2 separate regions of the Homo sapiens genome follow, and region 1 is linked to region 2. Evidence: fine-mapped expression QTL. A gene starts in region 2. The other region holds a variant in brackets. All regions are shown on one strand. Distances are between the middles of the regions. Region 1 overlaps PSMD13 (proteasome 26S subunit, non-ATPase 13). Region 2 holds the start of BET1L (Bet1 golgi vesicular membrane trafficking protein like).

Region 1 (2,792 bases), 38 kb before region 2:
AGAGTACTCATATGGTGCTGAGGGAGCATGTATCTGGGAAAGGCAGAGATGCACACAGCTTGTACCTGTAGTCTCTAGGCATACATCTTGGTGAGATTCTGCCCACACACAAGGGACCAGGCACAGAAATACTTATGGCAGTACTGTTTGTGATAGTAAAAAAAACAACCTAAATCTCCCTTTTTTTTTGAGACAGAGTCTCGCTCTGTTGCCCAAGCTGTAGTGCAGTGGTGCGATCTCGGCTCACTGCAACCTCCGCCTTGCAGGCTGAAGCAATTCGCTGCCTCAGCCTCCCGAGTGGCTGGGACTACAGGCGCCCGCCACCATGCCCGGCTAATTTTTGTGGTTTTAGTAGAGACGGGGTTTTACCATCTTGGCTGGGTTGGTCTTGAACTCCTGACCTTGTGATCCACCTGCCTCAGCCTCCCAAAGTGCTGGGATTACAGGTGTGACCATCGCACCTGGCCCTAAATCTCTTCAATAGGAGACTGGATACATATGTTGTGAAACACTTATACAATGAAATACCGTATAGGAGTAACAGCACATTGGTTACACATACCCACATGACTCTGAAACCTAGTATTGAGCCAATGTTAAAACGCTTGAGTTACACACCCCTATTTAATGAAGGACAAGGAAATGCATGGGCATGAGAGGGAGCCTGGCTGGGGGAGAAGTGTGGTCTGAAGGGTACTGGGACCCTGACTGTGCCGTGTGGCTTCATTCCTTCCTAAGCTGGTTGGGGCACATGGATGCCTATTACAGCATTCTGTACTGTGACTTATAGCTTTCAATATGTCTTAAAATATTTGAAAATAAAATGCACTAAGTATGCATATGGGTTAGGACTGACAATAAACAATAAAAAGTATCTTTTCAGGGCAATGAGGACATGAACACTTTAACCCTTACCCCCAATATTTTCTTTAACATTGTGATTAGCAAACACACACACACACAAACACACACACACAAACACACACAAACACACGAACACACATGCAAACACACACACACACACACACACACACACACACACACACACGTTCTGGTTCAACCAGGTGGACCAGCCACATGTCGGTTTCACTGCCACCCACATCCATACCTGTCTCCCAACTGCACCAAAACATAATTGAACATAAGAAAGACATAAAAATAGACAGGATACTTCAACAACATTTAGGAGGCAGAAGGAAGATGGAGAAATAGCACGTGACATGCCAGTGGTGTGTAGGCTGACCTTGGTCAGGGAGAACCAATGTGCTTTGGGCTGACTGAGGCCATGTGGAGTCATTATTAGACGGATGTGCTGTGGTCACACAGGGGAGTGCTCTTTTGTTTAAGGGCAACAGGCATTGTATCAGCAACTTACTCCTAAGTGGTTTTGGAAAAAAGCTACAGACACACACAAAGGCAAAAGC[G/A]GTAAAAGGTTAGCAATCGGGGGGGCTGGGCGCAGCGGCTCACGGCTGTAATCCCAGCACTTTGGGAGGCTGAGGCAGAGGGATCACTTGAGGTCAGGAGTTCCAGACCAGCCTGGCCAACATGGCGAAACCCTGTCTCTACTAAAAATACAAAAAAATTAGCCGGGCAGGGAGGCACGCGCCTGTAATTCCAGCTACTCAGGAGGTTGAGGCAGGAGAATTGCTTGAACCCGTGAGGCGGAGGTTGCGGTGGGCCGAGATTGCACCATTGCACTCCAGCCTGGGAAACAGAGCGAGACTCCGTCTTTAAAAAAAAAAAAAAAAAAAGGTTTGCAATGGGAAATTTAGGTTGGGGTATAGTAGTTCTTTGTGTTATTTTTGCAACTTTTCTGTAATGTAAAAATGTTTTAAAATAAACAGTAAAGAAGAAAAATAGGTTATTTTTTTTCCTAGGGTTTTAAATAATTTTAAACCAAAGATAAATCTGTATTATGGTGATCTCACCTTTGTAACCTGTAGGTCCCCGATGTTTAATTTTAGAGCTCCAATTGCTGTTTTACACAGGATCACTGCCTCATCACTACTTTTCACCTAAGACATCAAAAACAAAAACAAGAAACCTCAGAATGTGGGCAGTTGACTAACAAAGGAAGCTAGCTACTTGTACATTAACTTAACCTTGATGACTAGAGGCCTTGTGGTCTCTAAAGGTCTGGACAGTGAGCATGAACACAAGCTGTTAAGTCATACATACTCTAAAAGGTACTAAAAGGTATTGCCCACATGCCACATTTACCTTCTCACGAGTCTTTTCCAGAAAAGTAAGAGCCACATTAGGATCTGGAAAAGAAGGAACAATCAGAAGGACCATCAACAGACTGGTTTCTGCTAACCAAGACACCCTTAGGTAGGGTAATCTTTAGGTTTTGACCATAAAGTATAATAAAAACATAATATCTGATACAGAAAACACAAAAGTTCAGTTAACTTATATTTCAATTTTAACCACCATTTGGATCTGCTCCTTTATAAAACAAAGTGAGACTTACCAGTCATCTGTCTAACTACATGAAGAATGATTTCCACGAGGGACAAAGGGTTCACCCTGAAATAAAAGCCACCAGCCTTTGAGCACCGCCGAGCATCAATGCACTCATTTTCAAAGTGAAAAACGGATGAGAGGCTTTTACCTGTGTTCAAATTCACTGATAAAGTTTTCATAAAGCTGTGAAACCAAAACATGGAGAGAAATTATAGGATGTCTTTTATTCTGCAAAACGAAGACCCCAAACACTATCTTTGGTAAAGAAGCTGCATCAATGCTATCAAGTTGGGAGTGTGCAAGCCACAGTGCCCAGCACACAGTAA
Region 2 (2,792 bases):
ATCCCAGACCTGCCCCCCGCACCCCGCCGCGTCCCCTACGCTTGCTGACACAGCCTCTGCCTCACCCACGCCCTCCCTGCTACCCGCGCACGACCCTGCCCCACCCCCTCCGTGCCCGCCCCCCGGCCTCAGGCGGCCGCTTACCTCCTGGTTGTATGACCGCAGAGCTTCCATAATCACATCCTCCTCACCCGTCTCCACGGCTTCTGCAACCGCCCGGGGCTCCATGGCGCGCCGGGGAAGGCGGGACGGGCCCTTCCTCAGCCGTTCCGGGCCGCAGTTCGCCGGCCCCGCCCTGGCCCAGAAAGCCCCGCGCCAGCGCGCGGGGGAGGCCGGGACGGGGCGCGGCGTCTGGTGGCGCTTTAACGGGGCGCAGCGTCTGGTGGCGCTTTAAGGGGGCGCGGCCTGAGGCAGAACTGGCGGCTCGGAGGTTTTAAGACCCGAGTCGAGGGGCTGAGTCGCTCTGAACCGAACTGACCCCTCTCCTTGTGACCCGCGCTTCTTGGGCCAGAAGTTCCAACAGGAAACGATCTCAGCCCCCACCGTGCCCTGCCACACACACAGTGACGCCCCTCGAGCTCCACAGAACCGATGGGATGTAGAGGGGAAAGCCGAAGTGGAAAGGAATTTTCAGTCCTGGGCCATTGGGTTCGTTAGGCGTTTGCTGGGGAATGCAGGCGAACGGGATTCCCAGGTCCCTGCCTTTGTGGAGCTTATGTTCCAGAGGGGAAGGGGGACAAGGAAAAACAAAAGGACACGAGGCGGTCACAGGGCTGTGCTTCAAAAGAAGCAAAAGGCGACTGCTGGGCTGCAACGGGCTGTGAGGAAGTGCTGTTTTTGCTGACACCGGACGGTGGGAAGTGAGCCGGGAAAAGACTGGAGGAGCCACTCCAGGCAGAAGGAGCAGCACTTGCAAAGGTGGAGGGGCCGAGAGAAAGGGGAGCAACCCAGTCTGGCCTGGACTCAGTTCCCTCTTGAAAAGCAAAGATCCTGCGTGTCCGTTTCAGTGGCCGTCATGAGGATTCAGTGACGCACAGGAAGCGCGATCCACTCGCTCTTCTAACAAGTGCCCGGGAGCAAAGGCGTCTACGGCCCCCAGTCCCCGCGCCGCCTCCCAGTCTCTCTCCCGGCTTCACTTTCCTGTAGTGCGTTCTGTACGGCTGTATTCGACGCGGCGCGCACTCGCAGGCACGAGCGAGGCGCCGATCTCCACTTGACAGAGGAGGCACCCCTGCCCCCACCACACCCAGTGCTCCTCGCGGGCTTCTGCCCGAGGGGTCTGCTCCTTCCTCATGACCCGCCTGTGAATCCTTCCTAACCGTTAGGACCTAACCCACAGAAGCGTCTTTCCACCACCATCGTCTAGGCACTGAGCAAGCAAACGGCCCCGCCCCGCCCCACGTTCACAGGAACACCAAACGTCACATCCGCGGTGCTGCTGTAATCCCAGCACCTTGGGAGCCCGGCAGGCGGGGGCTGCAGTGAGCTGAGATCGCGCCACTGTCTGCGCGACAGTGCTGAAAATAAGCCACAGATATGCCCATCGCTTCCGCGCCCGGCAGTTCCCCACCCTCGGCCCTAAGCCGGAAGTCAGCGAGCCCGAAGCGGAAGGGGCTGGGCTATCTAGGGGCGTGGTCGGTGCGGAGGCGGGGCCATCGCTAGCTGGGGGCGGGGCCGGAAGCTCTTTCCCCGCGACTGCGCCACGTCTGAGGCGGCTGTGGCCGCGTCGGTGTCCGCGTCGAGGAGCCGGGGCAGGGCACGATGGCGGACTGGGCTCGGGGTGAGCGCGGGAGAGCGGAGCCGTTGGGGGCAGGGCCGGGCCGAAACCGACGCCGCTGCCTGTAGAGCCGCGTGCGCCTGCCTCTGGCCCAGCTGGGGTGACCTCGGCCGAGAGGACCCTGTCAGGGGGGCGGATTCGGATCCTTCCGGGTCCGAGCAGGGCCGGGTTTCGGCCGGCACTGCCGTTAGGACCGAAGGCGCGCGTGGCGGCCCAGCAGCTCCAGCGAGGGGTCGCGCAGCAGCGGGGTCTCCCCACTCCCCGCCGCCCCCTGTGAGATCGTTCTGCATGGGTTCGGGGTGAGCGGGAGTCGGCATTCGACAGGTCCCGAGGCCAGGCCCTAGGAGTAGAGGCTGTGCTCCGCTGGTGTCCAAGCAGGACTCTTACTTTGGCCTCGGTGGCCCCATTTCCCCTCCTGGAGCCCGTGTTCTTGTCTGCAAAGTGGGATATTGATGCCTGTCTCTGTGAGGTGTTATGATGATTAAAGGAATTTATAAATATGAAGTGGCTGGAAGGACGCTGGCATCCCTTCCTGACACTGAAGCTAGGGAGGAGGTGGTTCTCACGCACCTGATGTGACAGAACTTCCTTATCCCCTGGCCCAGCCTGTCACAGGCCAGGCCTCTGCGAGCACTCTGCCCTGGGTGTTGCAGGAAGCCCCATGCGGGATGCAGACCAAGGATCCCGCTCCTGGTCGACCTCAGCTCCCGTCTCGGGGAAATTGGGAACTTTGCTCAGCCATTTTCTGTGCGGTAAAGGGCCTTCCCAATGTTCTGTCCTGGTTCCTTGCCACCTCTTCAGGACCTAGCTCAAAGGTCGTCTCTGCAGGAGCCTTTCTGCTGCCTTGCTGGGTACTTTTCCCAAGTCTTTTCTATGCTCTTAGCAGAGTTTACTCTTTTTCTATAAGAATGGGCTCCACATACACAGATGGTGACCTCCCTGGATGCAAGTGTCACATCATACTAGCACCCCAGGGCTGGGTCCAGTTTTTGCTACACAGTCTCAGAAGGTGCTG

Evidence for each region. PIP is the estimated chance that this variant, and not a neighbour inherited with it, causes the effect. A credible set is the group of variants that fine-mapping cannot tell apart.
Region 1: its variant is the best candidate, but not a certain one, in a credible set for the expression of BET1L in whole blood (TOPMed, PIP 0.82).

Annotation. Positions count from the first base shown.
Region 1 is chr11:243,898-246,689 of GRCh38, reverse strand. It overlaps PSMD13 (proteasome 26S subunit, non-ATPase 13), which reads right to left. Exons shown (of 13, transcript NM_002817.4): 3 at 2,615-2,649; 4 at 2,474-2,529; 5 at 2,221-2,264; 6 at 1,929-2,015. Among named protein-coding and RNA genes, the nearest start is that of PSMD13, 8.3 kb to the right of the region's middle. The variant G/A (reference allele first, on the strand shown) is at 1,425.
Region 2 is chr11:206,291-209,082 of GRCh38, reverse strand. It overlaps BET1L (Bet1 golgi vesicular membrane trafficking protein like), which reads left to right and starts at 1,684. Exons shown (of 4, transcript NM_001098787.2): 1 at 1,684-1,780. The coding sequence starts at 1,762. It overlaps RIC8A (RIC8 guanine nucleotide exchange factor A), which reads right to left and starts at 1,375. Exons shown (of 10, transcript NM_001286134.2): 1 at 145-1,375. The coding sequence starts at 228. RefSeq lists enhancers at 1-94, 169-788, 764-933, 789-1,410, 1,957-2,458 and 1 more and silencers at 1-102, 173-462, 463-661, 1,723-1,842, 1,953-2,012.